Linked DNA regions of Homo sapiens: regions 2, 3, 4 and 5 are each linked to region 1. Evidence: fine-mapped expression QTL. A gene starts in region 1. Each other region holds a variant in brackets. All regions are shown on one strand. Distances are from middle to middle.

What was found.
Region 2: its variant is fine-mapped to the expression of ELAPOR1 in whole blood (GTEx, PIP 0.96).
Region 3: its variant is fine-mapped to the expression of ELAPOR1 in visceral fat (GTEx, PIP 0.95).
Region 4: its variant is fine-mapped to the expression of ELAPOR1 in whole blood (TOPMed, PIP above 0.99).
Region 5: its variant is fine-mapped to the expression of ELAPOR1 in whole blood (TOPMed, PIP above 0.99).

The regions. Positions count from the first base shown.
Region 1 is chr1:109,110,448-109,116,772 of GRCh38, reverse strand. ELAPOR1 (endosome-lysosome associated apoptosis and autophagy regulator 1) reads right to left here and starts at 2,658. Exons shown (of 22, transcript NM_020775.5): 1 at 2,437-2,658. The coding sequence starts at 2,589. It overlaps CFAP276 (cilia and flagella associated protein 276), which reads left to right and starts at 4,026. Exons shown (of 5, transcript NM_001245025.3): 1 at 4,026-4,174. The coding sequence starts at 4,094. RefSeq lists a silencer at 2,837-2,906.
Region 2 is chr1:109,193,959-109,200,283 of GRCh38, reverse strand. It overlaps ELAPOR1 (endosome-lysosome associated apoptosis and autophagy regulator 1), which reads right to left. Exons shown (of 22, transcript NM_020775.5): 15 at 5,690-5,863; 16 at 2,630-2,810; 17 at 2,209-2,305; 18 at 1,610-1,711; 19 at 304-430; 20 at 47-225. Among named protein-coding and RNA genes, the nearest start is that of SARS1, 17 kb to the left of the region's middle. RefSeq lists enhancers at 1,748-2,947, 6,160-6,325. The variant G/A (reference allele first, on the strand shown) is at 2,433.
Region 3 is chr1:109,251,201-109,257,525 of GRCh38, reverse strand. CELSR2 (cadherin EGF LAG seven-pass G-type receptor 2) reads right to left here. Exons shown (of 34, transcript NM_001408.3): 1 at 4,137-6,325. Among named protein-coding and RNA genes, the nearest start is that of CELSR2, 4.8 kb to the right of the region's middle. RefSeq lists enhancers at 1,298-4,452, 3,713-4,487. The variant C/T (reference allele first, on the strand shown) is at 3,283.
Region 4 is chr1:109,181,679-109,188,003 of GRCh38, reverse strand. It overlaps ELAPOR1 (endosome-lysosome associated apoptosis and autophagy regulator 1), which reads right to left. Exons shown (of 22, transcript NM_020775.5): 8 at 2,871-2,959. Among named protein-coding and RNA genes, the nearest start is that of SARS1, 29 kb to the left of the region's middle. The variant AG/G (reference allele first, on the strand shown) is at 2,972.
Region 5 is chr1:109,160,665-109,166,989 of GRCh38, reverse strand. It overlaps ELAPOR1 (endosome-lysosome associated apoptosis and autophagy regulator 1), which reads right to left. Exons shown (of 22, transcript NM_020775.5): 2 at 4,976-5,096; 3 at 2,299-2,491. Among named protein-coding and RNA genes, the nearest start is that of ELAPOR1, 50 kb to the right of the region's middle. The variant T/C (reference allele first, on the strand shown) is at 3,219.

The DNA of each region.
Region 1 (6,325 bases):
GCTGCAGTGAGCCGAGATCATGCCACTGCACTCCAGCCTGGCCTGGCAACAAAGCCAGACTCTGTCTCACCAAAAAAAAAAAAAAAAAAAAAGAACAGAGAAGAGCTGGTCTACCTTGAATTGGTTTTTCACCATTTGGGGTTGGAAGCCCCCAAACTTGTTTGATCAGTTCATATTGCCAAATGAATACTATAATAATGGGTTTATTCTCTCCCTGATTGTTTTGGAGTTGAGGGTGTTCAATGGCCACTGTTTGCTCAAGGAGAATGTAAACAGGACTTGCTGACGCCTGTGGCAAATGGGCATGCCTCCTAAGCCATTTCCAATCTGGCATGGGGTGTGGATCTAATGGGAAAGAAGCTGAACAGAGAAGGAGGGTGGGTAACTCTCTTTTGTGTTTCCAATGTATTTTCTATTTCAATACTCAAAGCAATCCTTTCTGAGGTAGGTGTTATTTTGATACCCATTCTACAAATCCAAAAACCACGTGGTAAGTAACAGGACTGAAACCCTGGTAGGTTGAGCTCCATAGCTTTCCACTACCTTAAGCTTACACTTTGTGGCAAGACCTTTTGCTTAGGCAAATATTGGTTATTCAAACAGGACCAAAGGCAAAATTCGTACACAAGTTCGAGTTCTCAAGTATCAATATTCTTCCCTTCCTCCAAACCAAGATAATAGAAGTGCTTAATTTCTGAAATGTCTCATATTTTCCATTGTTGACAAAGATCTCAACAAGAATTGGTAGTTAAACTGTATGATTCTTACCTTCCACTCAGGAAACTCCCTTGTTTGATTCTTAGGCAAGTGGGCTTTCTTGGTCTCATTATTTTGGTTGGTTAGACCACAGGCCATCAAGGCCAGTGAGCCAGTCACTGATAAGATCATACTGTTCCCTGCGATCTCTAAAACAGGTCATAATGCGGCTAGGTGGAAATGTAGATGGCCCAGGGCAGGTTGTCATTGGAGCTAATAAAGGTTATCAAAAGTCCCACTCACTGGGGTCACTTATGTCATATTCATGAATCTTCAAAATCAAGTATCTTTATTCACACAAAAATCCTCCCCCCCACACCTGACTTCTTTATGACCTGCTGTGCTGTAGACACAGAACATCTTTATAAGAATTTATCTCCATATGGGATGGAGTTGTTGCCAATCAGTTCACACTAACAATTTATAAAAAATATTCTGGGCTGGGCGCAGTGGCTCATTCTTATAATCCCAGCACTTTGGGAGGCCGAGGTGGGAAGTCGCTTGAGCCCAGGAGTTAGAGACTGGCCGGGGCAGTATATCGAAACCTCATTTCTATTTTAAAACATATATTTTTTAAAGTAAAGAAAATACATCTATATATATATTCTAACCTCTCAAAACCTTAGTCAAGCTTGATATTTGGGATTAAATTTACAGAGCTAGATGCTTGACTTTTTATGAAGTCCTTCACATTTCACAGAAATAACAGAACTTTTATTTTGCCTTCCCCAACGTAGTTCTTGTAAATATCTTATTGTTGCCTCTGCCATATGGTTTCTAAAAAAGTTGCTCAGAGCACAACCAAATATTGTTATTTCAATAACATAGAAATGACTTAGTTTTGTTGCTGCTAGTGCCCTTTTATGTTCCTCCAAGATGACTTTTCAAAAGCTATTTTTGGTTATAAGAGATTGACTACCTATTGTCTGAATTCTGCTTCCAACATATTGGAAATACCTTGAAAAAGACTTTGACATATGTTAAGTCAGAGAAGGAGACTAGAGGTTGGCAGAACACAAGATATTGAAGAACTCAAAATCTGCAAAAAGGTGAGTCGTGTACTGTCAGGTACACTAAACATAGTACGCTGCGGGGAGGCCAAGCTATAAGGAGGAGACACATTTTACAGTCTGCACTAACCGATGTTTAATAAACAAGGAACTAGAGAGCTGGAATCCTATCATCCCTCTCGCACATCTCCCACCTTCACACTCCGTTTTGTGTAGCCATGATAAAACCACTTCGCTCTGATACTTTTTTCTGGCCTTCCTAACTCCTTTCCTCTCCCACTACTCTTCTTTCCTCTTCCTATTTTGCTTCTCTGTGCATAATCTTTTCTTGTCAACCACTTTTAAGGTGAGTTCATCCTAACTGGAAAATAACTCGTCTGCCTCCCTCATTCTGAGTTCAGGTACCCAGGTAGCTCCCCTTCTTGGGGCTGGGACCTTTCTCGCTGAGCTCAGCATCCCAATCTGTGAGGATGATCTATCCGTGAGTCCTCCAATGTGCTGGCCTCCTCATGACGCCAGACTGGCTCCTCTTCCCTCCCCCCACGCCTCATCCCCAAAGAAATCTAAACTCCGTGGCGTCTGAAACTCTCTGCGCCTGGGTCCCCAAGGTCTCCGCCTGGATCCAAGACTTTTGTGACCAAAGCGGGATCGGGTAGGGGGGCGGCAGTACCTCTTTGCAGGCATGAAGCTCCGGTCCCGTTCCCTGGGTCACCTGGAAGGCGGTCCCAGCCCAGAGCAGCAGCCGCCACAGCCGGGGTATGCGCCTCTCAGTTCTTCCCCTGACTCTGGCGGAGAGATGGTGGCTGTGCCCAGGCTCAGCCATAGCGTTGTCCTGAGTGAGCGGCAGTAGCGGCTCAGGTGCTGCGGCTGCTGCTTCTGCTGGCAGAAGGCGGAAAAAAAGGGGAGGGAGGTACACAGGCGGAGGATGCAAGAGGCCAGGCTCGCTTCAGTCACCTCCCTGCGGCTACGCCAACACCGCCCATCCTTCCTCCTCCCTCTGTCCTCTCCTCCTACCCACGTCGCCTTGACAACCGCCTCCTCTCTGGCTCCGCGCGGGTGGGGCAGGGACCACGCGCGCCTCTGCAGCTCACCTGCGGGTCGCCATGGCAGCCGCCGCCGCTGGTGCGCGCGGCGTGGGCGCGGGAGAGCGCGCGCCCGGGGTGCGCAACCGGCCCAACAGGCAGGCCCGGGGCTCGTGTGAAGAACACAGTGGAAGCATCCTCCAAGCCAGCCAACAAATTTCCGTTTTCTACTGCCCTTTCGGGCCAGGGGTTATTTTATGAGCATCTCCGATGTTGCACACGTGGCGTGTGAACCGAGAGAAAGAAGATGGAGAGATCACCCTCCAGACGTCGTCGCCTGGAAGAGGCCCCAGTACGTGTTCCCTCCTACGAAGGCCACTCCTGGAGATCTTACATCCCGCCAAATCCATCCGTGCTTTTACAACCGGCTAGAAGAGAAGCCCTGACACTGTAGTTGATCCGAGTTTAAGCGAGGAGTTTGCCTTAGCCGCAATTTCCCAAGCGCCGCACGTGGGCCTCTCTCTCTCTCTCTCTCTCTCTCTCTCTCTCTCTCTCTCTCTCTCTCTCTTTCTCTCTCTCTCTCTCTCTCTCTGAGACAGGGTCTCACTCTCTCGCCCACACTGGAGTGCAGTGGCGCGATCTCGGCTAACTGCAACCTCCGCCTTCCGGGTTCAAGAGATTCTCCTGGATTAGCCTCCCGAGTAGCTGGGACTACGGGCGCGTGCCACCAAGCCCAGCTAATTTTTTTCCTACTTTTTGTAGAGACGGGGTTTCGCCATGTTGCCCAGACTGGTCTCGAACTCTTGGGCTTAAGCGATCCGCCCGCCTCCGCTTCCCAAAGTGCTGAGATTACAGGCGTGAACCACCGCGCCCGGCCCTCTTTGGTCTCTTGACATCCTCATTCTCTCATGGCTTTGAAAGCCTTTTGTTAGGTGCGAGGGAGAAGGAAATTTCTGGGTCATCTTTCAGGACTTCTTTCCTCAACTGAAGTCTTTTGCAGAAGTCCTGATGGTGAGCAGCCAGCACTTTTCCGCCGAGGCTCAGGAGTGCAATTCCAAGTCTCGGGCCCGCTCAGCGGAACGTTCCCTCTGCAGTCCCCGGAGCTTCCTCCCCAGGGGCCTCCCGTGGTCAGCCGCCAGGTGGCGCCCTCCTCTGAGGGAATTCCTCTGTCATAGATGGCTGGGCAGTTGCCTGGCAACCGAAACCAGCGCTCCAAACAATTGGGACCCGGGATCTTATGCCAGTGAGGCTGTGCTGCGGCTGAGCGGGCCTCCCATCCCTCTTAAAAGAGTTAGGCATTTAGCCATGCCTCCCACCCGGGACCCTTTCCAGCAGCCTACATTAGATAACGATGATTCCTACTTAGGAGAACTGCGGGCTTCCAAGGTACTGTGGTTTCTTGCGCAGATTCCCAGTAGGGTCGCCGGTAGTCTTCTTTCTGTCTGTGTGATGAGCAGAGATGGTAACATAAAGGACTCTGGTGAAGACACTCAGTCGGGTACCAGGGAAGTCTGTTTTCTGCCTGCCTCCCTATCTCCATATTCAAGTCGGCTAACGTTTCAGAGGCGTTTTTGAGCAGAGGAAAGTAGAGTTCTAGTCTAGAGGAACAAGGGGCTCTGGCAGCTCAAATCAATTGTGAGTATAAGTTATGGCAGTGCCCAGGTTCCTTCAAGCTACCCATTTCCCTATTTGGAAGACTGTTCTCTGAAGAGAAATGAGATATGGAGTGGGAGAGAATCCTCTGAAAGCCACCAGAGGTCATGCTTTACACATCTGTGTTCACACTGTCTCTGTCTTCTGGTTAACACCACAATATGTTTGTTATGTGTGTGTTTAGCATGATGGTGGACACTGATTTCGGAACTTAGATGATCTTTTTTCTGGTAGAAGTGATTGGGATATATGAAGTGGTGCACAATAAGATGAATTAAGTGGTGATTGTGGTCTAATAACAATATTGAGAGCCCCTTTTTATTTATTCAATACTTATTTACTATAAGCCAGACACTCTGCTAAACGCCAAGGATATATAAATAAATTAGATGTAGCTTCTGCTGTCAAGGAACTCTAGTAGTAAAGAGAGACCGACAATAGCAAAAATGCTTGCACAATAGCACATGTTGTGACAGAGTTGTGTGCAGGGTGCCGTGAGAACCAGGAACTTAAAGGAAAGCTTCACAGAGCAGATGCATTTTGATGTCCAAATATGAGTTAGGTAGGCCAGGTGAGGGAGTGGATAGAATGTGAGTTAGGAAGAAGGAAACAGGAACCAGATATGCAAGGCAAAGGAAGCAGCAGGTGCAAATACATGGAAAGGAGAGAGAGAATGGCTTATTTGGGGAACTGCAAATAGTCTAGAAGGGCTGGAGTGTAGGCGTGCAATGGAAGCACTCAGAAATCAGAGCTGGAGAGATGCCCTTGGTTGGCTGGGTGTGCTGTGTACACCATGCTAGCTAGCTATGGTTTCATCCTAGGGATGTGAGGAATCATTGTGGGATATTTTTTTTTTTTTGAGACAGGGTCTCCTTGCTCTGTCACCCCAGCTGGAGTGCACTGGTGCAATCTTGGCTTACTGCAGCCTCGAACTCCTGGGCTCAAGCAATTCTCCCACCTCAGCCTCCCAAGTAGCTGGGACTACAGGTGATGCCACCACACCCGGCTAATTCTTATTTTATTTTTTTGTAGAACCAGGATCTTCCTTTGTTGCCCAGGCTGGTCTCAAACTCCTAGCCTCAAGTGATCCTCCTGCTTTGGCCTCCCAAAGTGCTGAGATTACAGGCATGAGCCATGGGTCCCAGCCCCATAGCAGGATTTTAAGTACCACAGTGACACAATCAGATGGGTGTTTTAGGAAGCACAAGTGGCAGCAGACTGGATAGGATGAGAGTGAGACAAGAGGGATCAGCTAGGAGGCAGGTGAGGTGATCTCCAGGAGGAAGAGTAACAGATCTACAGCAGTGCCACAGGGGGTGGTGATCAGGTGCAGATGTGAGAAAGGTGCACAGGGCAGGACTGACAGGACTTGGAGACTGACTGGACATGGGCCCAAGAGAGGAGGTGAGTCTAGGATAGCTGCTGGGTTCCTAACGGTTTAATTCTGAGGTTTCACTGAAATGGGGCATCCTGGGGAAGCAGGTTTGGGGAGAAAGATGTTGAGAAACATCAACTATGTAGATGTTTTTGTAGTGACTGTGGTATATTTAAGTGAAGGTCAATAGTAGGCAACAGGATTGAGAGTTCTGGATTGAAGATGTATGACTGAGCTGTGTATCCGTATGAGCTATGGTACCCATATGGTAGTTGAAGCCATGGAAGGGAATCAGCTCATCCAGTGGATGTGAGCATAAGAAAAGTAAAAATGAGACCCTTGGAGAATAGCACTGCCTAAGGGACAGAGAGAAAGTGGAGCTGAGACAGTAGCTGAGAGATAAGGGCCAGAAATAAGAGGAAAACCCAGAGGAGCTGGGCCCACAGAGCTTGGTGAGGGCATTTGAGGGAATCAGCATTATGGTGCCAGAAACAGCTGAGTTCAAATAA
Region 2 (6,325 bases), 84 kb before region 1:
TAATCCAACCCTGTCCATCCCCACACTCCAATACCGCAACATGTACTTTTGATTCTTTTTCCAAAAGTAGCAGGTCAAGACGGTGAGCAGGATGGCAGTACAGGTGCCTGCAGAGATGCCCACTTTCAGCCAGAAATCTATGGTTTTGCAGATGGTGACTCTCTGCTCAGGCAGAGAAATGCCACCAGAGCATAGCTTGGGTTCTCGCCACACGTAAGTAGTCTTCTGTTGGGGAGAAAAACAAGGAACTCAGATCTCCCATTCCCTTCTCTCATGGAAGTGCCCGATCAGAGGGAAACCCACCTGGATCCCAGCCACACAGCTGCTGACGATAGCATGGTAGTCAGCCACTGAGCAGAGCGGGCAAGCAGCCGCGCTCTCCCACAGGAAGTGGAAGTTGCAGCCATCACAGGTCCCATCCGAGCACGTTCTAGCAAAGCAGAAAAGAGACCTGAGCTCTCACTCGCTGGAGGGGTGGGGAAGATCTGGTTGGAAGCCTGTTGTCTCATAGCTTGCCTGATTTACCCTCTCCCTGCCCAAACCATTAGCCCTACCAGGATCCTTCCAACTAGTCCTTAACACAGGTTTTGATCTCTGATTTCACTGATAAGAGGCCTTCCTGGCCTCCAGTGGGCTCCCCACCCTCTGCCCGTTTATGTTTTTGCTGACATCTTATGAGAGCTATTGTAAGGTGTCTGAGCTCCAGCATGGCTGTCTCATCAACCCCTTTGAGGTTCCTGTCCTCCCCACAGACTTGTGACATTTTGCAATAGCCACTTTGATGCAGCTTCCTCGGGGTGGGATTGGAGTTGAGGTGGGGTTCAGGAATGAACTTCCGGTATGGATACCTGTTATGTACTTTACTGTGATGTTTACAATGGCAAGAACAGGGATTTGACACTCAGACACCACTACTGGGTCAAGACGCCCTGCTTTGCTCCCCATCTCCCCAGTCAGTTTAGGCGCAGCATATCCAAAACGTCTTCCTCAAGACGCTAGTGCCCGTCAAGATGTTAGCTGCTGTTATGCGGGGAGGGGAGGGGGTGTCCTGTGGTCATATTCATTTAGAAATTTTTGATTTAGTTCACTCAGCTATTAACCTCAGAACTGGGTATTTTCGTTGCAGAGAGATTCCTAGGATCCCTAAACCTTTACTAATCCTCATAATAGCCAGAGATCATGAAACGTCCTAAAGTCTCCTTGTCTCATTTAATCCTCAAAACAACCCGCTGAGGGAATTTAGCATTATGCCCATTTTTACAGATATGGAAAAAAGAGGCCTAAAGAAGGTAAGAAATGCATCCATGATAACATAGCTGGTTAGTGGAGGAGATGATTCAACCTGGCTCTCAGCCGAGCTGTTGGTTACCATGCTACGCAGCTGCTGCCTTAATGGACCAGGAATATGAGAATAGCTTTCACTCTTCCTTCTACCCCATTCTTGCCATATGAAGACTGAGGGTCTGGGGCCATGACTGTGCCCCTAAGCACCCATTAATGGATCTCAAACTCTTTTCTTTTTTGCTCTTTTTCAGTAATCTCTGGATCTCAGGATGGAATGACTTCAAGGGAGATTTTGGCCTTTGTTACATCCCTTTGCAGGGCTTACCCTGGCAGCAGCAAACTTCCAGGGACAGTTTTCTGTGGACTGCACCTGACGCGGATGGTGGTTGATCTCCCAGAACTGCAGGACTGGGTCACATCATTGGACCTGCAGAGAAAGCCAGCCCCCATGAGGGAATGAGTCACTCAGCTGTGTTATTGGACAGCCACCAAGAGAAATCCGCATGGAGCAATTCCCTTGCTGGGGAAGTCAGGACTTGGGCTTTAGCCTGGCACACAGGGAGTGCACAGGCCTTGGTTTATACGTGGAAAGGGTGGGGATCAACAATATGTAGTCAAGGGGGAAATGCCCTGGTTTAGGAAAGTCATGGCTAGCATACACTGGAGCCTGCTTAGGCTGGAAGGGAAGTCCACTGCAGATCATCCAATATTTCTCCTTGCCTCTAGGGCAGATCTGCTCCAGTAATATCCAGGAAGCTGGGATCAGGAACTCCCAGCCCTTAGCTATCATGACTGGGCAGATCTGCTAGACCTCAGACATGTTCTGGCTTGATAAGCAGTAGGTGGCTAGAGAGGGAGGGATGCAGCAGAAATTATGGAGGAGTCCTAGGTTTCACTTGCATTAGCCTAGCCTCTCATCTTCACCTATAAAAGAAGATCACGTCCGGTATTCCCAAGGACTCCAGGTGGAAAAGTTCAGCTGGGGAGGTGATTCCATCCAGAGTCATATCTGTTGTCACCCCTGCCAAATTAGAGCTCCTAATTAGTTCTCACTAGTAGCATTAGCTGGCAACCACTTCAATTCTTCCAATACCTGTCAACATCCAACCTCACTTCATCTCATCACATCCCTGAGTGGCTTATGAAAG[G/A]GTGAAACAAGGGTTTGTCAGAGTCCCTGGGAGCACTTTGCACACAGAGTGGAATAGAAAACACAGGTCAAGAGGTTGGGCCCCTCATGTGGGGCCTTTTACCTCCCAGACTGGTAACCTCACACTCTCTTACACATACACACACACACACACACACACACACTCTCAAACAAGGCTGAGGCAGCGGAGTTACTCACCAATAAGTCGATCAGCAAGGCTGACAGGCTGTGAGGAAACCCCGGCCTTGTAGCCTGTCACCTCTGGGGGGATGATGACTGCCTGGCAGACGTAGGCTGTGATAGATTTGGAGAACCCTGACTCACCCTCAGGAATCCGGAGGTCAGTGACATTGTCGGTGCACACAGACATTTTCCTACCCTGGTTGGGGAGTGGGGAGGAAGAAGTAGGAAGAAGTGAGTGGTCACAGAGGAATTCCCAGAAGGGAATAGGGAAGGCTTTTTTACATCTAAATTTTCAGCGTTTCAATGGTATGTTGTAGGGGAATGATTCATCCCAGGTCTAATGACGAGACAGATTTGATTTTTTTGTTTTGTTTTGTCTTTTTGAGACAGAGTCTTGATCTATTGCCCGGGCTGGAGTGCAATGGTGCAATCATAGCTCACTAAAGCCTTGAACTCCTGGGCTCAAGTGATCCTCCTGCCTCAGCCTCCTAAGTAGCTGGAACCGCAGGTTAATTTTTTTTTTTTTTTTTCGTAAAGATAGGGCCTCTCTGTGTTGTTCAGGCTGGTCTTGAACTCCTGGGCTCAAGCAATCTTCCTGCCTCAGTCTCCCAGAGTGTTGGGATTACAGGGGTGAGCCACTGTGCCCAGTCAACATTTTCAATGTTATAAATTTTATTATAAATGGTGCTGGCTGGGTGCAGTGACTCACACCTGTAATCCCAGCACTTCGGAAGGCCGAGGCAGGTGGATCATGAGGTCAAGAGATTGAGACCATCCTGGCCAACGTGGTGAAACCCCGTCTTTACTAAAAACACAAAAATTAGCTGGACGTGCTGGCGCATGCCTGTAGTCCCAGCTACTCGGGAGGCTGAGGCAGGAGAATCGCTTCAACCTGGGAGGCGGAGGTTGCAGTGAGCAGAGATCGTGCCACTGCACTCTAGCCTGGCAAAAGAGTGAGACTCCACCTCAAAAAAAAAAAAAGTGCTAAATCTGGTGTCTCAGCCTTTTTTTTTTTTTCTAGATTGTAGGAAGTAGATGAGCTTGAAAACTGAAGAAAACCTTTACATTACAATAAAATAGAGTTCTTTTGTCTTTGAACTAAGGATCTATCGTGTGGCAGTACATCATAAGCATTTCTAAACAGGAAAGGAGTAGATAAAAAAATACACCATTTCCCCAAATTCCCCACCTTCATTGCTCTCCATAATTCACTGAATGACACTTTTGCTACATGAAGCCTGCTTTAATCAGTCTTATTTCCTAAGTGATCATGACCTGTTACTTCTGAGGCTTCATTTTAACTTCTTCGAAGACTTCTGAAAACAAGATAGAGACACCTATCTCTAATCTTTCATAGATTAGTTTATTTCTTGACATGTTCTCTTTATAAACACCCATCGACTTCTTTGCATGCTGCAGAAGATGGGTCAGAGCTCTATGATGTAAAGGCCTTACCACCAACAGAGTCAAAGACTAGATGCTCAAGATGCTCTTTATATTGTCACTTTTTTTTTTAGATGGAGTCTTGCTGTGTTGTCCAGGCTGGAGTGCAGTGGCATGATCTTGGCTCACTGCAATCTCCGCCCCCTGGGTTCAAGTAATTCTCCTGCCTCAGCCTCCCGAGTAGCTGGGATTACAGATGTGTGCCACCATGCCGGGCTAATTTTTGTATTTTTAGTAGAAACAGGGTTTCACCATGTTGACCAGGCTGGTCTCGAACTCCAGACCTCAGGTGATCTGCCTGCCTTGGCCTCCAAATTGCTGGGATTACAGGCGTGAGCCACCATGCCCAGCCTCTTTTGTAACATTTGAAATGAACTTTCCAACTGCTAATTGTGGCTTGTTGCAATTTAATCAAGTGCAGTGGTGGGATTAACCTTTGCATTTCTGCCTTTGAATTTTGGATCTGAAATATTTGCAGCAGCATGAAATGGCTGATGGTGACAATCTTTCCTTATAAAGCATTTCATGTTACTTTCTTTCATACTGTCAGCAAAGAGACGTGTGGATGAACTAGAAACAGTTGATTTTATCCAGCCTCTAGAAAACAAGCGACAAATGCAGTGATTGCTGAAGACTGCTTTTTCAAGCAAGGGAAAAAAACCTTTCCTTCTGCATATTTCTGGGGTTTTTTTTGTTTGTTTTGTTTTTTGCTTTTTTGTTTTTTTTTTTTTTTGAGACGGAGTCTCACTCTGTCGCCCAGGCTGGAGTGTAGTGGCGTGATCTCCGCTCACTGCAAGCTCCGCCTGCCAGGTTTATGCCATTGTCCTGCCTCAGCCTCCTGAGTAGCTGGGACTACAGGTGCCCGCCACCACGCCCGGCTAATTTTTTTGTATTTTTAGTAGAGACAGGGTTTCACCGTGTTAGCCAGAATGGTCTCGATCTCCTGACCTCATGATCCACCCACCTAGGCCTCCCAAAGTGCTGGGTTTACAGGCGTGAGCCACCGCGCCTAGCCTTCCTCCTGCATATTTTTAAATAGACTCATTTTGAGGAAATAAAGGTCAGGTAAAAGAACACCTTATTTTATTTTATTTTATTGATTTTTTATTATTTTTCTGAGATGAAGTTTCACCTTTTTGCCCAGGCTGGAGTGCAATGGCGCAATCTCAGCTCACTGCAACCTCCACCTCTCAGGTTCAAGCGATTCTCCTGCCTCAGCCTCTCGAGTAGCTGGGATTACAGGCATGCACCACCACGCCCAGCTAATTTTTTTGTATTTTTAGTAGAGACGGGGTTTCTCCATATTGGTCAGGCTGGTCTCGAACTCCCCACCTCAGGTGATCCGCCCGTCTCGGCCTCCCAAAGTGCTGGGATTACAGGCGTGAGCCACCGCACCAGGCACCCGGCAAGAACACATTATTTTAAATATCTTTATTTTCTTAAGTGTTTATAATCCTGATTATTTAATTTTAGGGGAAAAAGTCCTCAGGGAGAATAATATGTAAAAACCTTTGAAGCTCCTCAACCCCCTGCTACCTGAAGGATTTCTGGTTTTCTCCTGTGTCTGTCTCTGGCTTCTGATCCATGGGCCTCCCCCATTCAATTTTCACCCTGTCAACTGGTATACCTTACCTGGTTTCCACAGAGACTGAGGGTAAAGTGATGGAAGTATTTCAGCCCTTTGGAAGTGAAGCTTGGCCCTCCAGCAAGAGTGACAGTGTTTGCCAAAGCGGAGAAGTTGTAGTTGAAAGTCCTGGTCGGAGTGTTGCGTGAGAAGGTGCAATCGTTGTAGCACAGAGAGTGGATCTGAGGGGGAGAGGGACGGGTCGGGCCAGCTGGTCAGGAAGGGCCTTGAGGGCCTGCAGCCAAGAGTAGCAGTTTTCTCCCCCGTCTGGTCCCGCCCAAATGGGGTCAAGAGGAGGAAGAAAGGATTAGGAGTGGCTAGTAAAAGAAGTGAAACAGGCACTAGTGGGATTTATGTACATTTGCCATTCAATTATTAGCACATATATGATGGACAAACCTAAATCTGTTATTGTTCAGAAGGGAGTTTGGACAAATTCTATAGCCTTATAACCCTGTGCCTAGATTATAGAAGCCTCTCAAGACACAAGAGGATCCTTTTTACTTTCCAGCAGAAGACAATGAGGCACTAACCAGAAAAGGGTATCTGAGATGGGAGAAGAGAAACTTTTCTTGCTCCCTCCTCACCCCCTCACAGTGCAAAACTCACTGAACTCTGCTTCCTGTTTCTCAGGTTCTCTGTAG
Region 3 (6,325 bases), 140 kb before region 1:
ACTTGCTGGTGTCTCATTCCACCCACACACCCTAAGCCCAGAAATACCATACACACCTGAATGCACATACACATGGGAATGAATTTTATTTAGCTAAAAAATGAAAGCTGGGGCCTGGAGAAGGAGGAAATGGCTTTACAGGGCAAGAAGGGATAGTCTTTTTTTTTTTTTTTTTAAGAGACAGACTCTCTGTCGCCTACACTGGAGAGCAGTGGCACGATCATAGCTCACTGTAGCCTCGAACTCCTGGGCTCAAGCGATCCTCCCACCTCAACCTCCCAAATAGCTGAGACCACAGGTGCTCACAACTATGCCTGGCTAATTTTTGTTTGTGTGTAGAGATGGGGTCTTGCTGTGTTGTCCAGGCTGGTCTCAAATTCCTGGCCTCAAGTGATCCTCCATCTCAGCCTTCTAGAGCACTGGGATTACAGGCATGAGCTACTGGCATATTCATATTTGTATTTATTACAATGCCTTACACATAGTAGGTGTTCAGAAAACACTGAGATGTGGATGACAATCTATTCAGTCTCCACAAAGAATAAACGGACTTTAAAACATAGCAGGGGGCCGGGCGCAGTGGCTCACGCCTGTAGTCCCAGAACTTTGGGAGGCTGAGGCGGGTGGATCACGAGGTCAGGAGTTCGAGATCAGACTGACCAACATGGTGAAACCCCGTCTCTACTAAAAATACAAAAATTAGTTGGGCGTGGTGGTGGGTGCCTGTAATCTCAGCTACTCAGGAGGTCCCAGATACTCAGGAGGCTGAGGCAGGAGAATTGCTTGAACCCAGGAGGCAGAGGTTGCAGTGAGCCGAGATCGCGCCATTGTACTCCAGCCTGGGTGACAGAGTGAGACTCTGTCCCAAACAAACAAACAAAACCACATAGCAGGGGGAGCCCAACTAGATATAAAAAGCAAATGCTTACCCTAGCAGTAACGGGGCAGGAGCCCATGTTTCTGGGGTGGGGTGGGAGTAGGCAAGGGACATGGGAACAAATTCTGCATCTGTGTTGTACCTACTTGCGGTGGCTGACTGTACCAGCGGTGGCTCAGCTGAAGCCGGGAAGGCTGAAAGCAGACCCCCATCTCAGCCATGTCCTCAGCCGACTGCCCACCTACCCTCCAGCCTCATCACTTGCTTATTCTCACTAGCTCTCACCAGCAAGCCTGCTTGTCATCACCCACTTCTGTTCCTCCTGCTCTCGTCTCAAAGCTGCTGCACAGGCTGTTCCTTCCCACCCAGACACCAGCCCACAGTCCTCTGAGTCTTCTAACCTGCCCTAGCTCACCTGCTCCAGGAAGCCTGCCCAGATTTATGTCATCAGGCTCTACTTTCCTCTCCGTTTCAGACTTCCCCGCACCAGGATGCTCAGCTGGCACAGAGCTCTTGTATACCTGGTATATCTGCCTAATGATTCCTTGACGGGATATTCCCTCCAGGCAGAAAGCAGCCCAAGACTCCACACACAGTGCCCATAACTGATTAAGAGAGGAGAGGGGGCAACCAAGGCCATGGAGCGGGAGAAACTTTGCCACCCCTCAGCCCTGGGAACAAACACTTCTCCCTGTGTCCCCCACCGCCATCGTCTTAGGCCCCGCCTGGGCCCCTCTCCCAGCATGTCTCTGTTGCTTCCCATCTGGTCCACCATCTGTGGCCACCTGCCCCCTCTGCTGTTGTCCCCCATCCCCAACAGTCAACCCACTGCTCTCTCCTTTCTATATCACCCTCCCCTGCCTTGACCTAGGTCACCCCTCAGGTGCAAAGGCAGGATGGGAACAGGGGTGGGGAGTACGTTGCCTGAGCTGTCTTCCTGGACAGAAAAGGAACAGCTGGGATGGCCTCTGACCCCAGGAAATGCCACCTGTGTCCCAAGCTTAGCCAGGCACACCTGGAAAAGTGCCAGGTCCCGGTCAGCCTCCCAGCCTCTCTTCCCCTGGCAGATGTGCCAGCGGAGACTGGAGGCCAAGAGGGCTCTGCTGTTCTGGGAGCTGCCCAGACCATGGACAGGAGCTGCTGCGTGTCTGAGCAGAGGAAGAAAGAGGCGAGGAGAATTCAGCCTCCAGGGGAGCCATCGGCCCAGGCTGGGGCAGCTGCAGCCATAGGGAAGAGAGTGGAGGCACAAACACGGAGACCAAACAGGGGAAGACAAAGCCTCAGGAGAGGAGCCAGCAATGGGCAAGTGGGAGAGCCGGAGAGCCGCAGGAGCAGGGAGAGGGCACCGGAGAGAGGCAGTGCTGCAGGGCTCCGCATGGGCAGGGGCGGGAAAGAAAGAAGAGACAAAGAACAAGAGGAGGAAAACAAAGGGGCAGTGGGAGTCAGCTCCCCCTCACCCCGGCCTCCCTGAACTTTGGGGTTGCCGTGGTGACTGCCTCCAAGGGTCAGGGCCGAAGGGAGAGGGTGGGGCCAGAGCTGCCGGGCCAGGAGGAGCCGTCCTGGATGTTGCCCCGAGCCTTCTCTAGACTAGGGAACCAAGGTCTAGGGCTCTGCCCTGGTGGGAGACCGAAGGCTTAATGGGGGCGCTTCTCTGCCAGTGCCTGGCCACGCTCACCAAAGGCAGGCTGGGTGTGGAGGACCAGAGGGAGAGGCCCTCCTTCCCACCTCCTTCCCACTTGTCTCAAGTGCCCAGGCACAGTTGAGGACACAGGAGCTCCAGCCTCCCTCTTCCGCCTCCTGGAGGGGAAACTGAAGTCTCAGGAGGCTCAGAACCTCAGCCACAGTCCCTGAAAAGCTCCTGCTTCCTGGTTCCTGTGGCTACTTTGAAGGGTGGGGCAGGGAGGCATCTGTCCAGCAAGGACCCTGAGTGAGGCCACGCCCTGACTCTGGCATACCCCTCCTTCCCCTTCAGGCCACACTCCCTGGGGTGGGAGTAGGGGCCTGCCAGCCTCTTCTTTTCCTCCCTTCCCTGATGGATTTGAAGGCTGCCTAGAGGGGATGTGACCTGATCCACCCCTGGGGTGCAGCTAACAGCATCCCCTCATGAGGGTCTCAGTTGTTCCCAGGCTTGGGGAAGGCACTCAGCAACTTGGGTGTGGTCTTCTCCCTGCTGCTACCTCTGGCTCCCCACAGCTGATAAAAAAAGACAGAATACTGTCACCAACCCCCTCCAACTCTCCTCCCCCAGCCCTGCTGTCCAGGGAGTCTGTAGGCTGAGTGCTTGGCCAAGCAGCAGGAATGCCCCAGCCTGGGTTCCGGCCAGGCTCCCACGCCCTGGGACTCTGTTCTCTCCTCAGATAAGGTGCCTTGGGGTCTCTGCCCTCAAAGCTCACCAGTCCACTGGC[C/T]TGTCCTGGTCCCTACACTCCATTCCTGGAGCTTGGGCTGGTCACAGCTAGCAGGAAAGGAAGGCCTGGCACCCTAAGAACAGCCCATGAGGTGGCAAGGGGGGCCCACGAGGCCTCAGCCTGCCCCCCAGCTTCATTGCAGCCCCTCCTCCAAGCCAGACCCGAACCACGGACTCTGAAAGTGGGGTCTGTTTGGACAGACAATGAGCTCTGGCCTCACTTCCTGTGGGAGCTCTGAAGGGGGAGCCAGGCCAGGCTCTTTCTGCCTGGAGGGAAAAGAATGCGCTAGACAAAGTCCCTGTCAGCCGATTCTGCAGCTCAGCCAGGAGGCAAAAGGGGCCAGAAGAGGACTACAGGGTCCTGACCCCTGGGTGGCGGCAGCCCTGTGCTCCCGTGGTCCCCAGCTCTGCCAAAGGCTGTGTGAGACTGCAGGAATATCTTGATGGGGGTGAAGGGGCCCTGGCCTCGCCTCCTCTCCTGCGCCACAGTCCTCTCTGCCCTTCCCCCAGCTCTCCTGGCCCCCCAGGCTTCCACGCGCCTTTTTTCACAATTCTTGGCAGCCATAGCCGGGGCAGCCTCACAACACTTCCCCGACCACGTCACAGGCTGGTAGACAGTGGGGGCAGCCAACCGAAGCAGCCCAGCCCAGCCCAGCAGAAGGTGGGGCCTGCACCAGCCGCCAGGGTTCCTGGGGCTTCTTCCCAAGCTGGCTCTTGCCCCTCCTGCTCTGTGCCAGGCACTGGGCAGGGAGGTGGATCTGTAGCTGCTTCCTGGATCGCACCCTACCTCCAGTGGCTGCCCAGACCATCCCCGCGAGCTACCCCCACCCCAGCGCCACCTGGGCCCTTCCTTACCTGACACCAGCACGCTCATGATGGCCTCCAGAGGCCGGTTGTTGTCCAGTGCGCGGCTTAGCTTCAGCTCACCCGTGGAGGCATTGAGCAGGACCAGGCTGAGTTCATTTCCCCGCTCAAAGCTGTAAGTCAGACTATCTGAGATATCAGGGTCATGGGCAGGTACTCGGCCAATGGCACCCCCAGGGAAGCTGCTTGAGCGATTGGTGACATAGTTGTTGAAAAGGATCTCAAAGTTGCCCAGCACTGGTGGGTTGTCATTGCGGTCAAGGAGGCGGACGTGGACTGTAGCCCGGCTCACCAGAGGAGCTGACGTGGCCTGGATGACCAGGACGTACTCAGGCCGGTCCTCGTAGTCTAAGTCTACCAGGGCTGTCAGCTCCCCGGAGAAGATGTCCAGCTGAAAGACCTCAGGGATGTTGCCCTCCACAATCTGGTACATAATCTGGGCATTGGTGCCTTCATCGGGGTCAGTGGCTGTGACCCGGGCCACGGCTAGCCCAATGGGGCTGTTCTCTTCCACAAACACATCAAACTCATCCTGCTCAAAGACAGGGGGATTGTCATTCACATCCAACACAGTGACTGTCACTTCCATAGGTGTGCGGGCTGGGGGCATCCCCTTGTCCACTGCATATGCCCGCAAGACATACTGGGCCACGTTCTCTCGATCCAGCCTCCGTAGCGTTCGCACGATGCCTGACGTGGACTCAACAATAAAGTCACCGTCTCCATCGTCGCCTCCTTGGAAGGTGTAGAAGACCCTGCCATTAAGTCCAGAATCACGATCAGTGGCTGAGATCTGCAGGACGCTAGTGAAGGGTGGCACATCCTCATAGACACTGCCCTGGTAGGAGTCTCGCAGGAACTGAGGGGCATTGTCATTCACGTCGTTCACCAGGATCTCCAGGTAGGTGGTGTCGGACTTCTGGGGAATGCCATTGTCCCGAGCAGTAATGGCCAGGGTGTAAGACACTTGGTCTTCATAGTCCAGCTCAGCCTGGGTGGTGACAGCCCCCGTGTCTGCATCGATGCGGAACTGGGGGATGCTGTCCTCCATGAAGTAGGTGATGCGGGCATTCTCACCTGTGTCCTCATCCGTGGCGCTGATCAGCACCACCGTGGTGCCTGCCGGCCGGTCCTCATTAACATTCACTGTATAGTGGGAGCTCTGAAAGACAGGACGATGGGTGTTGGCGTCGGTGACATTCACCACAATCTGTGCCGTGTCCTGCCGAGTGCCATCGGAGGCGGTAACAGCCAACACATACTGCCGCTCAAGTTTGTAGTCCAGTGGCAGGGCAAGGGATACCAGCCCACCACCACTTTGGCTGGTGATGGAGAAGCGGTTTCGAGTATTGCCACTGGTGATCTGGTAGGTGATGACACTATGAGCATCACGGTCCACAGCTGACACCGTCACCACGCTGGTGCCCACAGCTGCATCCTCATTGAGCCGCACTGTGTACTCTGGTTGGGTAAAGGTTGGATTGTTGTCGTTGACATCCAGGACAGTCACGCTGACACTGGCCGAGGCAGTGAGTGCTGGAGTGCCATGGTCTCGAGCTTCTACCCCAAAGCTGTAGAAATCAACTTCCTCCCGGTCCAGTTCAGCAGCCACAGAGATCCAGCCTGTGCCATTGTTGATGGTGAAGGGGAAGTCATGTCCCACCCCAGCAAGGCGGTATTCCAGGCGGGCATTGTCACCAGCATCAGCGTCGATAGCCTGGACATGGAGAACCAGGTAGCCTAAGGGGACACTCTCCAGGACAGTAGCCTGGAAAGGGGTGCTGACGAAGATGGGGGCATTGTCGTTGATATCCAGGACCTGTACTGTCACCAAGCCAGAGACATTAGAGAGTGGGGGACGGCCACCATCCTGTGCTCGCACCCGTAGGGTGTACTCCTTGGTCGTCTCATAGTCAAGAGGGCTCACCACATCCAGAGCTCCAGTCTGGGCATCCAGATAAAACTGTCCCCGAGCATTGCCACTCATGATGCTATAGTGCACCACGGCATTGCTCCCCTTGTCTCGATCCGAGGCTGTGACTCGGAGTACTGGGGCCCCTGGAGTCACATCCTCCCTCACCTGGACCACATAGCGCTTCTCACTAAACTGGGGGGCATTATCATTGTCATCCTCCACAGAAAGGAAAACAGCGGCTGTGGTACTCCGAGGACCCGGGTCC
Region 4 (6,325 bases), 71 kb before region 1:
TGCCTGAGTCATGGTTGTGTTCAATCACTATCTGCCAAATGAATGTTGCCTGGGTGACAAGGAATAGCTCTAATGAAGACTTTATGACAGAGAATGTGGGACCAGTTGTCTTAGAGAAAGCTCCGATTCCACTGTAGAATCTTATTGCTACCAAGGTCACAGGAAAAGCAGCTGGTGAAAATCCCAGAACACAGAAAGGCACAAGGGTGGAGGTGGCTCAGATGTCCCCCGGGGACTGAGGGGGTGGCTGAGATGTCCCCACTTATTTTTTGAGTGGTACATTCTTTGCTCTTTTATTTATTGGGTAAATCCTAATGCATCTATGTGCCAGACCTGGTGTCTCAGAGATGAATGAAACATGGCCCCTGCATTGGGTACAGAAGTGGAGATGACCCGCAGGAGACCCCGGCTGAGTCAGGGGTGAAGGTGGGCAGCTCCATTCTTCCCATGTGGCCCTCAGATCGAGTCACAGACAAAAACGTGCCCTTATAGGTTGAACTGAGGGGTTGATGAACATGATCTGTGCAGATACCATACATATGAAAAGAAGGATGAATAAGGCCTCTGTCCATATTTTTCAAGATAAGAAACAAGTCCTTAAGGAGGGACACAGACTGCCTTAACTGATGGGGAGCCCTGGGCTCCTCCTTCCCCTGCTCAGCTCGGCCCTCTTCCCTGCGGAGGGCTGCGACAGCCAGAGCCCCAGGCTTGAACCTCACCTGCCTCCTGTGAGTCTCAGGGAGAGGAGAGTCCTAGGAGCTGGCAAACTGTCTCGGGCCAGCTCTTGGAGCAGCACATTCACTGACCCCAATGGATGGGCCATCCTGGTCCCTGAGAAACAACTGAGGCACAGCCAAGGTCAGAAATGTAATCATAGGAGCCAGCTCGAGGTGTGTCCCTTGATTTTAAAATACTGTTCAGAAGACAAACTCAATCACCAGACTGAGCAGAACCAGTGCGGGAATGAGGCACAAAGCAGAAGTCTGCAAGGAACAGCTGGGGAATGCATGTTCATGCGCACTCCTGAAAGCACACGCTTCAGTGCTCCTCCTCTGAGCTGGGCCTTGGCTGTGCTGCAAGGCGGGAACACAGGCTTTGGTCTGACCCAGCATCTAAAGGCCCCGGCAGTGGTCAGGCCAAGGCAGACACCCGGGCTTTCAGGCAGCAAGCACGGTACTGACCCAGAAGGCCTTGGCGTGAGCCCAGGGAGGGAAGAGAATGGGGCAGAAGGGAGGAAAGACAGCCACATTCAGTCACATGTTATGAACAGGAGGGAGAAGAGCAGCAGGATTAATTGTCTGCCTTTTATTAGTGAGTTGGCTGAGACCAAGAAAATGAAAATAAATGTTCACAAGGTCATACAGAATACCAGACACCACAGAACTGAGTCTAAGGTGCAACTGACAAGACACAGCCATTCTCTCTTGGCTGCTGGAGAAGGGGATGATGCCCCAAATACGTGGGGGAGGTGGTGTTGGTAAGAGATGACTGTGCAAAATATTCATTGTTAAGGACCAGACTTTAACCCATGCTTAGTTAGGAAAGGGAGAATTCAGTCAGCCGCCCAGCCAGCAAATGTTTATGCTCCCTAAGAGCCAAGCATCATGCTTAGTGCTGAGTGCAGAATGCCCAACTCCTAGTTCTATCCTCTTGAGAATCTCTAGCTTAGGGATACAGACAGCTCAGCCAGATCCTTCTCCGTGCACCTCAAGCCCTTCCCTGCTCACTTACACTGTTTCTCCACCCACCTGGCCCAGCTGCCGCCTCCTCTCCTGCTGTGTCTGCTGCCTGGAAAGCTCCACGGCTCCTCCCTCATCTCCTTCAGGTCTCTGCTCAAATGTCACCTCCTGAGAGGACATCCCTACCCTTCTAAAATAGTGGCACCACCCTCCTTCATTCTCTCTCTCCTAATCCTGGTTTTTTTTTTTCCTTCCTACCACTTACTACCATTTGCTATATTATATACCCATTTGTTGTCTATTATCTCTCTCTCCACTCCCTCCCCAACAAGAGTTAAGCTCCATAAGGGCTAGATGTTCCCTCAGTTTTGTTAAGTGATGCATGCCTAGCACCTAGCACCGTGCCTGGCACAGAGTCGCTCCTCGATAAATATTTGTTGACTGTTGAACAAATGGCCTCCTCTGAGAGGCTTTCTCTGCTGCCCCCACCCCAAGTCCTGGTCGCTTCTCTTCTGGGCTCCCCCAGTTCCCTGCACATCCCTCTGGTTGCCTTGACTGGGCCCGTTTTTCTCCTCTCTCCAGCCTCTCATACAGGACTGTGAGCTCCCTGGGGGCAGGAGCTTGTTTCAGTCGTCTCTGACTCCCCAGCCTATAGTGCCAGGCCTGACATATCAGTCAGCCTCAAAAAATGCTTGTTGACTCAGTGACAGTGTAGACTAGGAGGGAAAGTTCTTTTCTGAAGCAGAAAGCCTGGAGGAAAGAGAAGCAGCAGAAACGGAACAAGTCAGACCATAGGCAGGAATCCATTCCCCGTGCCAGCCCACAAAACAGTGCCGAGGGGGTGAGCCTGAAGAGCCCCGGGAGGACATTGTGTACGGACAGGCAGGCTCTGCCGGAGTGGCTCGGCAAATAGAAGAAACCAAGCAAGAGAGAATGAAGTGGGTTTTTGAAACAGAACATATGTGCATAAACAGTGAAACAAACGCTGCAAAAACAGTTTCTGACCGGAAAATGAATGAAGAGGTCTCGTTTTGCCCCCCACCCCACCTAGCCCTAGGGTCACCTCAAAGGTCTGTGGGGTTTTAACTAGTGCCAATGTCATTGACTGCTGAAGTTCCAAATGGTGGCAAACCTCAGGGAGTGGGAGACAGTCCATCTGGGGCTAAGGGGCTCCAAGACTGTACTACCCACCTCTCCGTTGGCATCGCAGGCCGTGTGTGTGTAGAAATAATCTTTGTCTGTGCAAGCTGGGCGCACGTTACAGGAAGAAGATCCTTTCTCTAAATTGCCAA[AG/G]CAAGAAGAAATATTTGGAGTTACATAAGAAAGCTGAGCTCCTGGCCTCTTCATGGCCCTGTGACTCCCAAGTCCCTGGGTGCATTGCCACACAAATATTGCCGGAAGTAGAAAATCCTGCACACTCACCCTTCCCCTTGTCTCAATAGTGTCATTTCCAGTTCCCCAACCCTGCTCAAGCTTCCCTTTGCACCTGTTCCAGGTGCTGATGAGAAACCACTGTTTGCCGCTTCCCGTCCCCCGCCCCATGGGGCAAGGGAGGGAGAAGTGGCCTGGCCAAAGGACCAGCAAGGAGGGTAGACGGAAACAGCTTCTTGCAGGTTAACCACTGCCAACCTAAGTTCCCTGAAACCTGGGGAGGTTCAGAGAGTTCACCATCTTCCAGGTGCCTTAGTGTCTTGACTCTGGGTGTGGTTTTTCTACTCCTGAAGTGTTGAAGTAAAACATGATTTTGCTTTCATACTCATTCCAAGCCTTTCTATGAATGTTCTAATATATGCCTAGAATGAAGGCCTTCCACCTTGGAAATTTCCTTTTCTTCATGCAATCATTCTACACAAACCAGGTTTGTAATTTCCTTGGACTCCACCTAACACATAAGGTTCTTCCCACTTGCCTCAACCCAAGCATCCCAACACTATCTTTATTATTATTATTATTGAGATGGAGTTTCACTCTTGTTGCCCAGGCTGGAGTGCAGTGGCACGATCTTGGCTCACTGCAACCTCCGCCTCCCAGGTTCAAGTGATTCTCCTGCCTCAGCTTCTTGAGTAGCTGGAATTACAGGCATGAGTCACCATGCCTGGCTAATTTTGTATTTTTAGTAGAGACGGAGTTTCTCCATGTTGGTCAGGCTGGTCTCGAACTCCTGACTTCAGGTGATCTGCCCTCCTCGGCCTCCCAAAGCGCTGGAATTACAGGGGTGAGCCACCGTGCCCGGCCTCTTTATTATTATTTTATTATTGTTATTTTTTAGAGACAGAGTCTTGTTCTGTTGCTGAGGCTGGACTGCAGTGGTACAATCTTAACTCACTGCAGCCTGGAACTCCTGGGCTCAAGCGATCCTCCCGCCTCCCGCACCAGCCCAACACTATCTTTAACTCTTGATTTATACCTAATGAAAAATGTTAACTGCTGGGCATGGTGGTTCATGCCTGTAATCCCAGCACTTTAGGATCTCTTGAGCCCAGGAGTTCAAGACCAGCCTGGGCAACATAGCAAACCCTGTCTCTACAAAAAATACAAAAATTAGCCGGGCGTGGTGGTGCAGGCCTATAGTCCCAGCTACTTGATGTTGAGGCAGGAGAATCACTTGAGTCCAGGAGGTTGAGGCTGCAGAGAGCCATGATCATGCCATTGCATTCTAGCCTGGGCAATGGAGAGAGACTCTGTTAGGAAGGAAGGAAGGAAGGAGGGAAGGATGGAAGGAAGGAAGGAAGGAAGGAAGGAAGGAAGGAAGGAAGGAAGGAAGGAAGGAAGGAAAAGAAAGAAAGAAGAAAAACGTGAACTATCAGTTTTCTTCTGCTCTCTGCATGTTCTCCTCCTTTCAATGTTAGCTCTGCTTTAACCCTGTGAACCTCTGGATAGTGAGAACTACTTCTATGAATTCATTTTTTAATTTTATTTTTTTCATTATTTCATCATAGGGTTTGTTTTCTTTTCTCTCTCTCTCTCTTTTTTTTGTTTTTTTTTTTTTTTTTTTTGGTAGAGACAGAGTCTCGCTATGTTGCCCAAGCTGGTCTTGAGCTCCTGGCTTCAGGCAATCCTCCCACCTCAGCCACCCACCCAAAGTGCTGGGATTACAGGCATGAGCCATTGTGCTTGACTCTCTCTTTAAAGCAGTGGGTTTAACTTTTTTTGATTTTAAAAACTCTTTTGAAAATTTGAAAAAAAGAGATGTTTCTCTCTACCTAGAAAAATATGCGTAATTCATACAAATAAAAACTTTTTGAAAGTTTTCTAGGGAATTTACTTCCTCCAGAATAAAAACAACTGCTTTATGAGGTGCACATTACAATACTGTTACTACTGCCACCACTACTTCGAATATGACTGCTGTGTCACCTGCAGATAAGCACTGAATAATGGTAAGAACTTCTCTCTCTTTATATTACCTGGCAAGCAGTATGGTGTAGTGGAATGAGATTTTTTTTTTTTTTTTTTTTGAGATGGAGTCTTGCTCTGTTGCCCAGGCTGGAGTGCAGTGGCACGATCTCGGCTCACTGCAAGCTCCGCCTCCCGGGTTCACGCCATTCTCCTGCCTCAGCCTTCCAAGTAGCTGGGACTACAGGCGCCCGCCACCATGCCTGGCTAATTTTTTGTATTTTTAGTAGAGACAGGGTTTCACCGTGTTAGCCAGGATGGTCTCGATCTGCTGACCTCGTGATCCGCCTGCCTTGGCCTCCCAAAGTGCTGGGATTACAGGTGTGAGCCACCGCTCCCGGCCTGGAATGAGATTTTAAGCTAGACGGATATGGGTTTGGATCCTGCTTCATCATTTAGCAGCTGTGTCACTTTAGGCAAGTTACTTAACCTCTCTGAGCCTCAGCCTTCTCATCTGTAGAACAGGAATAATAATATATACCTTGCTGGAGCCAGTACCTACCTGGCACATTGTAAGTAGATACTCACTAGATAGCAGTAACTATTATTACCTGCATGTTTGGGAATTATTATTATTATTATTATTATTATTATTTTTTGAGACAGAGTCTCGCTCTGTTGCCCAGGTTGGAGTGCAGTGGTGCCACCTCAGCTCACTGCAACCTCCGCCTCTCGGGTTCAAGTGATTCTCCTGCCTCAGCCTCCTGAGTAGCTGGGATTACAGGTGTGCACCACCACATCCAGCTAATTTTTGTATTTTTAGTAGAGATGGGATTTCACCATGTTGGTCAGCCTGGTTTCAAACTCCTGACCTCGTGATCTGCCTGCCTTAGCGTCCCAAAGTGCTAGGATTATGGGTGTGAGCCACCATGCCCAGCCGGGAATTATTTTTATTTGGGAGTAGTCACAGGAGAGTGAATAAGGATTAAAGGTCTCTTTACCTCCCTTTCAGTTAAGGGCTTATTTCTCAACTGATTCCTTCTTTTTCTCCAGGCACCACATGGGTTCGTAGATCAGATAATCTCCTAATTGCAGTCTTGTTGGCCTGAGCTGGAAAGTTCTCTCAACTGCACATCTCCATACCTCTTCTGTCTCTGTCTTATTAGGCTGGACAGGTGGGAACTACTGGCTGAGAAACAGTTGGGGTCTTCTCAGCTCATTTACTTGGTTACCAAGCAGGAGGCCCAATTCAGCACAGAGGGACCCATGGACTCCTGCTTTTGACTGACTTGGCCAGGAAAAATGTGGGG
Region 5 (6,325 bases), 50 kb before region 1:
AATTGGACTACAGATTAAATAGCCACTGCTTGGCTTAGACAAGATTTAAGTATAGGAATGGGAAACATTGCTCCCGGTTTTTAGAAATCCAAGTGTAATACAATTCTTGAGTCCTTCTTATCCATTTGATTGTTTGGGTATAAGTGAAACTTTCACTTGCTTTCCTCCTGTATTCACTGTCCATATTTAATAAGGAACAATATGGCTGCCTTTCACATCCTCATATCCCCCCACTTTCGCTCCCTAGGACCCAGTGTTGCCTTGCCCATAATAAATGTTATTTGAATGTGGCATTATGGAGCAGTGGAAGCTTGGGTTCGAATTTCAATCTCGCCGGCTGTAAACCGGATAACAAAGAGCAGGTCATAACCTTGCTGAGCTTCCAGTTCCTCGTCTCTGTAATAGAAATAGTAATGCCTATTTCACAAGGTTCTTGTGAGAATTAGAGAAAATAATATATGTAAAGCATCCAGAATAGTGCCTGGCCTACAAAAGACATATCTGAAATAGATATCCAGTTCTCCAAGCACCCTGGACTGAGCTTTCCAAGAAAATTTGCTAGTCATTGGGGTCTCACAGCATTTGGAAGATTTCAGCCAGCACTGGGCAAAGGCTAGGCAGAATCAGTTTCAGAAGTTAGCAGCCAAGGTGGCCCATGCCTGTAATCCCAGCACTTTGGGAGGCTGAGGCAGGTGGATCACCTGAGGTCAGGAGTTTGAGACCAGCCTGGCCAACATGGTGAAACCCCATCTCTACTAAAAAAATACAAAAAAATTAGCTGGGTGCGGTGGCTCACGCTGTAATCCCAGCACTTTGGGAGGCCGAGGCAGGTGGATCACGAGGTCAGGAGATCGAGACCATCCTGGCTAACACGGTGAAACCCCATCTCTACTAAAAATACAAAAAATTAGCTGGGCGTGGTGGCGGGTGCCTGCAGTCCCAGCTACTCGGGAGGCTGAGGCAGGAGAATGGCGTCAACCCGGGAGGCAGAGCTTGCAGTGAGCGGAGAGGGCACCACTGCATTCCAGCCTGGGTGACAGAGCGAGACTCCATCTCAAAAAAAAGAAAAAAAAAAAATTAGCCGGGCATTGTGGCACACACACCTGTAACCCAGCTACTCAGGAGGCTGAGGGAGGAGAAACACTTGAACCTGGGAGCTGGGGCTTGTGGCGAGCCAAGATGGCACCACTGCACTCCAGCCTGGGCGACAGAGTGAGACTCTGTCTCAAAAAAAAAAAAAAGAAGAAGAAGAAGAAGTTAGCACCCAAGCCGGGAAGATACCCAAGCTTTGCATATTGTGTTCCAGTCAAGCTGAGAAAGTATATTGGCTGATCTGAAATTCCGTGGTGGAAATCCGGTTGGTTTTTTTGGTTTTTGTTTTTGTTTTTCTTTTTTTTTTTTTTTTAAGACGGAGTTTCACTCTTGTTGCCCAGGCTGGAGTGCAATGGTGCGATCTCAGCTCACTGCAACTTCCGCTTCCCAGTTCAAGCGATTCTCCTGCCTCAGCCTCCCGAGTCGCTGAGATCACAGGTATGCACCACCAGGCCTGGCTAATTTTTTGTATTTTTAGTAGAGACGGGGTTTCACCATGGCCAGGTTGGTCTTGAACTCCTGACCTCAAGTGATCCACCCGCCTCGGCCTCCCAGAGTGCTGGGATTACAGGCGTGAGCCACCGCGCCCTGCCGGTTTTTGTTTTTCAATGAGACAGGGTCTTGCTCTGTTATCCAGGGGTACAGTGGTGCGGTCATAGCTCAGTCTAACCTTGAACTCCTAGGCTCAAGTTATCCTCTTGCCTCAGCCTCTCGAGTAGCTGGGACTACGGACATGCACCACCACACCTGGCAAATTTTTTAACTTTTTGTAGAGACAGGGGTCTCGCTATGTTTCCCAGGCTGGTCTCAAACTCTTGGCCTCAGGCAATCCTCCCACATTAGCCTCTCAAAGTGCTGGGATTACAGGGGTGAGTCACTGTGCCCAGCTCCAATTGGGTTTTGTTTTAAATAGACTGGGCCATTTAACCCTTGCCCCCCTTGTCCACTCTCTTATTTCCTCATGTTTTTTACCTCCCACAAATGCCTGTCCATCACTGGTAAGTTTAGGCCAGTAAGAGTGGGCCAGGCAGAGTCACATCCACTGGTCTTGCGGGCACAGCTGCAGGCCTCACCCTGGCAGCCTGGCTTCCTCTTCCCTCCATCCTCCCTGCCCAGCCTGAGGGGCAGCGGAGGAGGCTGTCCAGTGTGCCCTGTAGCCCCTTACCCAGTGGGCTGGGGGTGGGGTGGGGGTGTGTGCAGACTCACGAAGTACAGTTCCCGGTGGACTCAGCAGCACTGTCATCCAGCTCCATGTTGGCTGAGAGGCTGGCAAAGCCATGGGGCAGCTCATCCCACTCATCAAACCGAATGCCTGTGCCGAGGGAGTAGCGGCCCTCAGCGCATGGCTTACATGACTGGTCCTTCATATCCAGAAACTCCCCGGCGTTGCAGGAGAAGGCTGGAAAACAGGGCAGAGACAAGGTGGGGCAGTGAGGTCACTGCAGCCCCAGAAGTGAATGGGCTGCGAGCAGCTGAAGGGAGGAGCGCTGGGTTGGGGTCTAGGAGTTTGGCCCACTAAGATTTAGGGCCATGGCATTTACTGTGTGATTTGATTTTATTTTTCTTAAAAAAATTTTTTTTTCAGCAGTGATATTCCTTGCTATGTGTCATTCTATTTGTATGGAACGGCCAAAAGAGGTGAAGCCATAGAGACAGAAAGTAGATTTGTGGTTGCCAGGGGCTGTGGGGAGGGGCCTGGGGAGAGATTGCTAATAATATGAGGTTTCTTTTTAGGATGATTAAAATGTGAAATGAGAGTGATGATGGTTGCTGTGAATATTCTAAAAACCACTGAATTTTATCCTTAAAGGAATGAATTTCATGGCATATAAATTATATACCAATAAAGCTGTTATAAAAAAAATAGATCTAGGGCCACGGATGCTCTGCCTTGCTGTGGGACTTTGGGCTTGTTCCTGGCACTCGTTTCCTTTGGAGAGGTGCCCTGACCATTCTGAGAGCTCTCTGGTGAAGAAGATGCCAAGGTCTCTTGTGCTGACCCCTCTGAATGACACATGGCCCTTCAGCCTTGAATTTCTCCCTTGAGCCTCTGGCCTCTGCCTTTCTGGTTGTACTGCCACCATGCTAGGTGGAATTCTCATGACCTGTTAACTCAATCATTGCAA[T/C]ATCCTCCTAACTAGTTCCCTATTCTTATTTTTGCTCATTCTGTGGTCAGAGGTACCTTTCTAAAACAGATGTGATCAGGCACAGTGGCTCATACCTGTAAACCCAACACTTTGAGAGACCAAGGCAGGAGGATCACTTGAGCCCAGGAGTTTGAGGCCAACCTGGGCAACACAGTGAGACCCTGTCACTACCAAAAAAAAAAATGTTTAAATTAGCTGGGAGTGGTCGCGTGTGCCTGTAATCCTAGCTACTCAAAAGGCTGAGGTGGGAAAATTACTTGAGCCCAGGAGGTCGAGGCTACAGAGCTATGATTGCACCTCTGTACTTCAGCCTAGGAAACAGAGTGAGACCTTGTCTTTAAAAAAATAAAAAGTAAAACACGTATGTACTATTATTCTCCTTATTTTAAAAATAAACAGGCACTCCCTTTTGGTTCTAGAATTATGCTCTTGGCCTGGCATTCAAAGTTTTCCACGATTTCCCTGCAGCCTAACTTCCCAGCTTGACCTCCCACTACAAATCTTTTTTCACCTCAACTCCATCCATCACCTTCTCTGTGTTGCCTCTACCCTGGACCACAAGCTCTTCCTCAAATGTGTCACTCTTCATCCACGTCTAAACTTTTGCTCAAGTGGCCCTCCCAGCTATGCCTGATCCCTAAATATTCGTAACTCTCATTCTTTCTCATATCATATATGTCTGCCACCCACTAGGCTCTGCGCTCCTCTGGGGATGGCTGGCTCAGTGACTGGCACAGACTGGGAGCTTCATGAATGTTTCTGAAACAATGAGTGAATGAATGAATGTCTGCACTTTCCACCACCCTAAGCTTCTGAAAGCAGAGAGTGTGCCTTATTTGTCTTTGCAGTTCACACTGCATGTGCACATCATGGTGCTAACACATAGTGGGACTCACTGAAGTCAGCAGAGTTCAATGAAGATGGCTCATTTGTTTCCACTAGTCACACCTCAGTTCTGCTCAGGTCTCAGCAATATCCAGTCATTAATTTAACAAGTATTTATTTGCTCACTTACTCAACCAGGCACTGTACTAAGCTGATTTTAGAATTTAAATATCTTCAAACTCCTTTCCAACTCTTCAGATAATTCCTTAAATCTAGTGCCTGGTTTTTCTTGTTATTCCCTTTGCATTCCTAAAAGAATAATGCAGGGGAAACAGCTGCCAATTGTAGAAAAGTTGTGACTGCAGAGTCACAGAGGCGGGTGCTGGGGCTGCGGCAAGCCACTGCCTTTCCTATTGCACAATCAGACCCACAGTCAAGAAGATTCTTGTCTCCTGAAGTGATGCCTGGAGCATTTTAAAGGACGTCTCTGCAGAAACTTAGCCTCTCTGACTTCCTTTTTAAGAATGAAAGCAAATCTCAATCTTGCCTAATGACTGATTGTGGCTGGTGAGTGAGTGTAGATTGGAGAGACATACAAGGCAAAAATGAAAATGTATGCAAACAGAAAAGAATATCTGAGTGCACACAGCTGGCATTGCTTATGCTGTATCCACTGATGGGATTTAAATTCCTTTAAAAAATGAAAGCAAATTCAGATATCCAGTTTGCATTCATGAAATACTTCTGCACCAAATCTCATAAGGGTCTGGGATGTGGGGACTAATTGGGGAAAAGATCTGATTCCTTAATGCAGCTGCTCTGCCAGGAAGGGCCCAGATTGGATGGCAGGAGACTTGGGGGAGAGACCAAAGCTGAGTGACAGGGAGGCCCTGAGCAGGATAGCTGCTTACAGCACTCGGTGCCCTTGATGGGGTCAGGCAGGCTGGTGCACAGGCCCGGGGTATGCGGCACGGCGACCCTCCACCTGGAACCCGTGCTGTCACACGCCGTGTACTCATAGTGGTACTCAGACTGCAGGGGAGAGAACAGTGGGCGAAATGTGCATTAGCAGTGATCAAACATTAACAGCTTCCCACCCACTTCCCAGCACCATGGCTACTGATGCTCATCCTCTCAGAAATGGGCCCTGGGACCCCGGGCAGGGAGCTGATGATTATGAACCGAGTACAAGAACTACAATGATTTGGATCATTCCCTTCCACCCAGCCATGGTCTAGTCCCTAGAAATCATTTTTGTGTGTGACTCTCTTTGTTGTTATGTTTAAGTAGTGTCCTTATGGAGCAGAGGAACGTGGGAAAGGTAACTAAGGAACAGGCTAGAAATAGGTGGAATTTTTCTTATTCCAAAGTGTAGAATTTATGAACGAGGACATTCTAAATGGAAGGATGTTCTAAATGGAAGCCTTAGTCCACAAAAAATTTACAAAGGCTCCTCACAGAAGTGGTATGTATTTCTATTTCCCTGTGTTTCTTTTTTTTTTTTTTTTTTTTTTTTGAGACGGAGTCTCGCTCTGTCGCCCAGGCTGGAGTGCAGTGGGATGATCTTGGCTCACCGTAACCTCCGCCTCCTGGGTTCAAGCGATTCTCCTGCCTCAGCCTCCCGAGTAGCTGGGACTACAGGCGAGTGCCACCACGCCAGGCTAATTTTTGTATTTTTAGTAGAGACGGGGTTTCACCATGTTAGCCATGCTGGTCTCAAACTCCTGACTTTGTGATCCACCTGCCTTGGCCTCCCAAAATGCTGGGATTACAGGCATGAGCCACCACGCCTGGCCCTATTTCCCTGTGTTTCTTATGCTCCTTTCCACTCAGAAAGACTATGAATTCCCAATTGCATTTTATGAAAATATATTTGGCCGAGGCAGGTGATGTGCTCTCACTTGAGCCTGTTCATCCCTAATTTGTCTGTGCAATGGGAAACTCATAGTTTAATTGTTTTACCTGAGCTAAAAATAAATGGAATAACAACAAAACAACCAAATCAAGCATTAAGTAAAACAACAACAACAAACAGTTCCACTCAGAACAAAGAAAACACAATTGATGTGCCAAATGCCCTTAAGCGTTTCTTCCTCCTTTAAATCTGGTAATAAACAACAGACCATGGAATTAGTGATGATTTTGGCTCTGACAAGTATTTTACAATCTACACTTACCTAAAACTATATTCAAGCCCAGAGGTATTTTGTATTACTGTATGCATAAGAAAAATAGAATTAATGTCCCCCTTTAACCCACGT